Homo sapiens: one gene and its partner. The protein of the gene in region 1 interacts with the protein of each later gene in a pairwise test. Each region holds a gene or a part of one and is shown on either strand. Other genes may lie near its edges.

Region 1 (3,751 bases):
AAGAAGGGGGAAAGACAAAGGGCAAAATATGTGTGCCAATTGGGTCTATCACCTTCTATCCAGAAAATAATAATTTTCCCAGAATCCCTCCCATCTACTTAACATTTATTGACCAGAATGATATTGTAAGTGACCCAGGGACATTTCACTTCTTTTTTCTTTCTTAGATGAATAAATCCTTGCCCCAATCCAAATTGAGGCTCTGTTAGTAAGGAAGGAAGGGCAGGGAAATTGGGCAGGTAGCAGCATCTGCTACAGTATTTTAGTGAAACCTTGTTACTAATGTCTTACATTGCAAACATTAACTAGTTCGTCATATACTGTGAAGTTAAATAGAACTAAATTAATTTGCATTTCTCTAATGCTGAGTGATGTTGAGCATTTTTTTCATGCTTTTTGGCGATTTGTATGTCTTCTTTTGAAAAATATCTATTCATGGCCTTTGCCCACTTTATAATGGGGTTATTTGTTGTTGTCGAGTTGTTTGAGTTCCTCGTAGATCCTGAATATTAGTCCTTTGTCAGATGCATAGTTTGTACATATTTTCTCCCATTCTGCAGGCTGTCTTTTCACTCTGTTGATTATTCATTTTGATGTGTAGAAGCTTTTTAGTTTATTTAAATCCAATTTGTCTATTTCTGTTGCATTTACTTTTAAGTCATGAATTCTTTGCGTAGGCCAATGCCCAGCCCCCTAGGTTTTTTTCTGTTATTTTTATAGTTTCAGGTCTTACATTTAAGTCTTTAATCAATCTTGAGTTGTTAATTTTTGTATATGGTGAGACATTGGGATGGGTTTCATTCTTCTGCATATGGTAATCCAATTTTCCCAGCACCATTTATTGAATAGGATGTCATTTCTCCAGTGTATGTTTCTGTTGACTTTGTCAAAGATCACCTGACTGCAGGTATGTGGCTTTGTGTCTGGATTTTCTATTCTGACAATGAGATACAATCTTACACCAGTTAGAATATCTTTAAAAAGTAAAAACATAACAGATATTGGTGAGGATGCAGAGAAAAGATGGTATAAAGCTTGTTCTTAGCAATAGGGGAAGTGATTGTGGCAGTCAGAAATTTTATTGGAAAGCCGTGGAAGAGAATCCAGGAGGGGCAGAAAATAAGTTGTTCTCCTTGTCATGACCCAAGAAGAGTTTTCCATTCCCCCCAATTCCCCAACTCAACTAAGTTGGAAAGAATCAAGCCAATATACTTTTAGTACGACAGGTACATAAACTAACAACATATGTTATATTCAAGTGACAATTTTTTTCTCAACTAAAAATCATGTGGATGAGCTATTTTTTTAAGTGTGCATTTTAGAACAGTACTTCTGTATGTGGAGGGATCCAGGTGCACAGGCTTCTGCAAAGACATAGTGTCCAATCCTCAGTCTTGCATTCTCCCCTCCCTCCTCCCAGGAAAGCAGGGCTGGTGCTCAGGGAGATGGGTTGAGAGTGATGCTGCCAAGTGCCTGCCAGCTGCAGTATATTCAGCCTACAGAGTGAGCAGTGAAGGAAGTGGGGGAGGGAGGTGACCAGTAGAGATGAGAGAAGGAAAGAAAAACTGAGGTTGATATTCAATATAAAGAGGCAAGGCAGAGAAGGGGAATGAGCCATCTATGTGGGGGCTCATAGGAGAAAACAGACCAGGAGAAGAAATATCAAGGGTAGAACCAGAGAAATTTTGTGAAGAGAGGGGGGTGGTTGCAGCAGCTTTTTAATTTTAATTTAATTTAATTTAATTATATTTTATTTTTTGAGACAGAGTCTCGCTCTGTCCCCCAAGCTGGGGTGCGGTGGCATGATCTTGGCTCATTGCCATGTCCACCTCCCGGGTTCTCAAGCGATTCTCCTGTCTCAGCCTCCCGAGTAGCTGGGACTACAGGTGTGTGCCACCATGCCTGGCTAATTGTTGTATTTTTAGTAGAGACGGGTTTCACCATGTTGACCAGGCTGGTCTCGAACTCCTGACATCGGGTGATCTGCCCACCTCTGCCTCCCAAAATGCTGGGATTACGGGTGTGAGCCACTGCACCAGCTGCAGCAGCTTTTTATAAAATAAAATGAGGAGTGTTGTTCAAGGCACAAATAAATAGTAATGAGGAACTCTAGAAGAGTTTTAGACTGGAATATAAGCTTTGTGGAACATTTACCCACATTTAGACTGCTCAAACTAACCAAAACATCAGGTTTCTTGCCTTCAACTAGACTACTAGCCACCTGGCATGATGATTATTGGTTAACTCAAGGGAAATAACTTATTACTTAACAAATGTTATTGGTAGTAAAGATATGGAATCAACCTAAGTGTCCATCAACAGATGATTGGATAAAGAAAATGTATACACACATACACACAATGGAGTTTTATTGAGCCATAAAAAATAATGAAATCATGTCTTGTGGCAACATGGATGGAACTGGAGGCTACTATCTTAAGTGAAATAACTCAGAAAGTAAAATACCACATGTTCTCACTTATAAGTGGGAGCTCAATAATATGTACCCAGGGACATAGAGAGTGGAACAGTAGACATTGAAGACTTGGGAGGGTGAGAGGGGAGCGAGGGATAAGAAATCACTTAATGGGTACAATGTCCACTATTCAGGTGTTAGCTACCCTAAAAGCCCAGGCTTCACCACTACACGCAATATATCCATGTAACAAAATGACACTTGTACCCCCTAAATCTATAAAAATAAAAAAAGTTATTGGTTAAATAAACTATAAAGCCTGAAGTCCTCAAGGAGAAAAAAAAAATAAAAGGGGTTATTGGTGAATCAATATCAGGAACCACTGCTTTTCCCTTTATTTTTGAAAATAACTTTAGGAAATACTTGACTGTCTCAAAAACTATAACTAGAAGTATTCATGGGACATTCTTTTCTAGCTTTGTATGACTCGGCTATTGGATACTAAAAATCCATCCCTGGACACTATTAAGATGCAAGTCTACTTCGATATGAATTATACGAATCGAGGTAATGTATACTACCTATTTTTATACTTAAAAAATTTCATACTGTGTTTCAGCTAAGAAGGGCTTCATTTGGTTGACAATGAATTTAATTGTTTAATCAATTTAACAATTTAATTTTTGGCAATCAACTTTGAGGAATACAACGTTAGAAATGCTAAATGAAAAAAAACCATTGGCCTTTGTGAGTGTTAAAAGTGAATTCCAATTATTGTGCTCATAATTATTGTTTCCAGTGGCACTAATACATAATAATTAGGAATTCAGCCCATTGAAGTTAAAAGTTTTTAATTTATAGATTTTCTTGTTCCTGGTTTATGTTATTATCTCATTATAATTACCTAAATTATGTAACTATTCAAAAATGAACGATGGGGAGTTTAAGTTTAGAAAACGTTTCAATATGTAAATTTTTTTTGAGACAGAGTCTTGCTCTGTCACCCAGGCAGGAGTGCAGTGGCACGATCCACAGATCACTGCAACCTCTGACTCCCATGTTGAAGCAATTCTCCCACCTCAGCCACCCGAGTAGCTGGGACTATAGGTGTGTGCCACCATGCCCAGCTAATTTTTGTATTCTTAGTAGAGACGGGATTTCACCATGTTGCCCAGGCTGGTGTCGAAATCCAGGCCTCAAGCGATCTGTCTACGCCTTAGACTCCCAAAGTGCTGGGATTATCAGTGTGAGCCACCATGCCTGGCTCATTATGTAAATAATTTAATGCATACATCAAAGACAAGTTGGAAACAAAAGAAAAAGGAAAATGTAATT
Region 2 (3,751 bases), on another chromosome or scaffold:
CCCAAGGTCAAGAGATCGAGACCATCCTGGCCAACAGGGTGAAAGCCTGTCTCTACTGAAAATACAAAAATTAGCTGGGCATGGTGACACACGCCTGTAGTCCCAGCTACTCGGGAGGCTGAGGCAGGAAATCGCTTGAACCTGGGAGGTGGAGGTTGCGGTGAGCTGAGATCAGGCCACTGCACTCCAACCTGGCGACAGAGCAAGACTCTGTCTCAAAAAAAAGAAAAAAGAATCATCTGAAGAAATTCTGAAAATGCTGATGCTTGCATCCCACCCAGGGAGATTCCAGTTTAACTGCAGTGGTTGGCCCAACCAACACTCCTTGGGAAGTTCTCATGGACAGCAAAGATGCAGAACCAGTCATCCAACCTACCCCTCTTCCACATTTCAGATGAGGGAACTAAAGCACAGAGAGGTTCAAAGTTGGGTCCTTCCTAATAATAATAACAACACCCCACTAAATAGCAACAGAGGGGACTGAGGCCCAGGTGTTCTCCATCCATACAACAGGGCAATAGGAAGCTTCCTGCACATGGCCAATCCCTGGCCTAGCACTGACTCTGGCTCATGGCTGCCCAGAGAATGGTGGAAGAATATGATGCAGAAGGACCTTCAGGGCTCCAACGAGGTGGGTTTGGTAAGACTGAACCCCTCCACATGCATTTTCCTATATTTCTCTTTAGCTAGAGGCAACGAGGCATGCCAGGGTCTTGGTGACAGATGGTCATTTGCTCAAGTCCTGTCTCTGCCCTCTTCCTAGTTACATGAACTTGCACAAACTAGTTGATCTCCACTGGCTTCTGTCTCCTTGACTGTAAATGTGGATAATACTATATTACATATTCACAGAGCTGCTGGAAGGCCCAACGATCAGATCATTTGACTGGCCAGGGGCATGGTCTCTGGCTGGCTTTGCAAAACTGTGAGGGAGGAAGCCTGGGTCTTCAGAACTCTCGACTCTCTTTTGTGCCTTCAGCTTTCACCATAGCAACATCTCTTCTGGTCCCACGTGTTCTTTCCAGCTGTGTTCCCTCTCAAAGCCCACACACGCAGGAAGCGACCTGTAGTAAAGCCATTTACTACAGAACACAGAGGTTCCTGCTAAAGTCTACATATTATGTAACTGAAGATACTTGCATTGTAAGCTTTGTCACGACTTGTGGAAAGAAAAGTTTTGCTGCGCCTGAAAGAATCCCAAACCTGAGAGAGAAAACAGGGAAAAAAAAAAAAAAAAACAGGCGAGGGGTCGGCGGGAGGTGGGGGGATGGGTAGCCTCAGGGCCTCACCCACTCTTCTGTATTGTTGGGGGTGAGGAGGGCCTGGCCGTGCCAGGGTCTCTGAGGAAATATGCCTGACGAGGCTGAGCGGTGTGTTTGCACACACCTGTGTGGGCTGTGGTCCACCCTCTTGCACAGGTCGTTTCTCTTGTCGAGTTGCTGGAAAAAGAGAGGAAGGGCTTTGTCTTCTAGCCCAGATTAATAGAGTGTGTGATTGTCTCTGTGCTGCTGTAACCAATTATCACAAGCTGGGTAGCTTAAAACAACAGAAATTTATCCTCTCACAGTTCTGGTGCCCAAAAGTCTGAAATCAAGATGTCAGCAGCAGGCCGGGTGCAGTGGCTCATGCCTGTAATCCCAGCAGCTTGGGAAGCCAAGGTGGGCAGATCACCTAGGATCAACAGTTTGAGACCAGCCTGGCCAACATGGTGAAACCCTGTCTCTAGTAAAAATAAAAAATTAGCTGGATGTGGTGTCATGCGCCTGTAGTCCCAGCTACTTGGGAGGCTGAGGCACAAGAATTGCTTGAACTCAGGAGGCGGAGGTTGCAGTGAGCCAAGATCGCGCCACTGCACTCCAGCCTGGGTGACAGAGTAAGACTCCACCTCAAAAAAAAAAAAAAAAGTCAGCTGGGGGCCTTCTCCTAGAACCTTTAGGAAAGAATCTTCCCTGGTCCTTCCAGCCTTGGCTGCTGTGGCCTCATCACTCTGGTCTCTGCCACCATCTTCACTTGGCCTCGTCTGTGTGCATCGCTCCTCTGTGTACCTGTTTCAAAGTTCCTCTGCCTCTCCTTTAAGGATGCATGTGATTGCATTTAGGGACCACCCAGATAATCCAGGATAAACTCCTCCTCTCAAAGTCCTTGGCTTAGTCACATCCTTTCAGATATAAGGTCATAGTCACTCTCTTGCCATGTAAGGGAATAGCCACAGGTTCCAGGATTAGAGGTTAGAACATGTCTTTAGGGCCACCATTCAACCCATTGCAGGGAGTGAGAAGAGGTCAGATCCCAGAAAGCACGCAACACTGTGACTCGGTTTTTGGTAAAATCCATTCTCATTTAAGCTAGGAGAAAAATTGGCAAGTAAGAGGTGGGGGAAGCGGGGAGCATCTGTTTGGTGCAGACTCTGTGCAGGGCTTTACATGGATACATATTGACAAGAGCGAATGTTTATGGAGCATTTAGCAGATCCAGGCTCTGTCCTAAGGACTGCACACAGACTAGCTCATATAATCCTCATATCAGCTTCACATATGACCCCCTTTTATCGATGAGGAAATTCAAAAAGGTTATGACCTACCCAATGTTGTCACAAAGTAAAACAGCAAAGCTAGGATTCCAAGCTAAATCTGTTTCACTTCAAAACCGGTGTTCTTTCTACTGCAGAATGTCTTTTCCTTGGCCAGCAATAAGGTTTAATAAAAAAAAAAAAAGACATCAATGGAAAATCAAATTAATGAAACATTTATTTTCACAATCAAGCTCTTATTCCATTGTGTTGTGGATTTTTAAAGTTCCCACGCACAGATGTGCAGGGGTTTTTTTGTTTGTTTTTTGTTTTCTTTTATACTTTAAGTTCTAGGGTACATATGCACAGTGTGTAGGTTTGTTACATATGTATACATGTGCCATATTGGTATGCTGCACCCATTAACTCGTCATTTACATTAGGTATATCTCCTAATGCTATCCCTCCCCCCTCCCCCTACCCCACAACAGGCCCGGGTGTGTGGTGTTCCCCACCCTGTGTCCAAGTGTTCTCAATGTTCAGTTCTCACCTATGAGTGAGAACATGTGGTGTTTGGTTTTCTGTCCTTGCGATAGTTTGCTCAGAATGATGGCTTCCAGCTTCATCCATGTCCTTACAAAGGACATGAACTCATCCTTTTTTATGGCTGCATAGTATTCCATGGTGTATACATGCCACATTTTCTTAATCCAGTCTATCATCGATGGACATTTGGGTTGGTTCCAAGTCTTTGCTATTGTGAATAGTGCTGCAATAAACATACATGTGCATGTGTCTTTATATCAGCATGATTTATAATCCTTTGGGTATATACCCAGTAATGGGATGGCTGGGTCAAATGGTATTTCTAGTTCTAGATCCTTGACAAATCACCACACTGTCTTCCACAATGGTTGAACTAGTTTACAGTCCCACCAACAGTGTAAAAGTGTTCCTGTTTCTCCACATCCTCTCCAGCACCTGTTGTTTCCTGACTTGTTAATGATTGCCATTCTAACTGGTGTGAGATGGTATCTCATTGTGGTTTTGATTTGCATTTCTTTGATGGCCAGTGATGATGAGCATTTTTTCATGTGTCTGTTGGCTGCATAAATGTCTTCTTTTGAGAAGTGTCTGTTCACACCCTTCACCCACTTTTTGATGGGGTTGTTTGATTTTTTCTTGTAAATTTGTTTAAGTTCTTTGTAGATTATGGATATTAGCCCTTCGTCAGATGAGTAG

Evidence for each region. The genes of interacting proteins can lie anywhere in the genome.
Region 2: the proteins of CFAP206 (region 1) and ANKRD55 interact in binary tests that used the Homo sapiens proteins (3 or more experiments, as listed by UniProt).

What each region holds. Positions count from the first base shown.
Region 1 is NC_000006.12:87,410,918-87,414,668, forward strand, and holds part of CFAP206 (cilia- and flagella-associated protein 206), read left to right. Parts: intron 1-2,892; coding exon 2,893-2,983; intron 2,984-3,751. UniProt on the Homo sapiens protein: Essential for sperm motility and is involved in the regulation of the beating frequency of motile cilia on the epithelial cells of the respiratory tract. Required for the establishment of radial spokes in sperm flagella.
Region 2 is NC_000005.10:56,226,581-56,230,331, reverse strand, and holds part of ANKRD55 (ankyrin repeat domain-containing protein 55), read left to right. Parts: intron 1-3,751.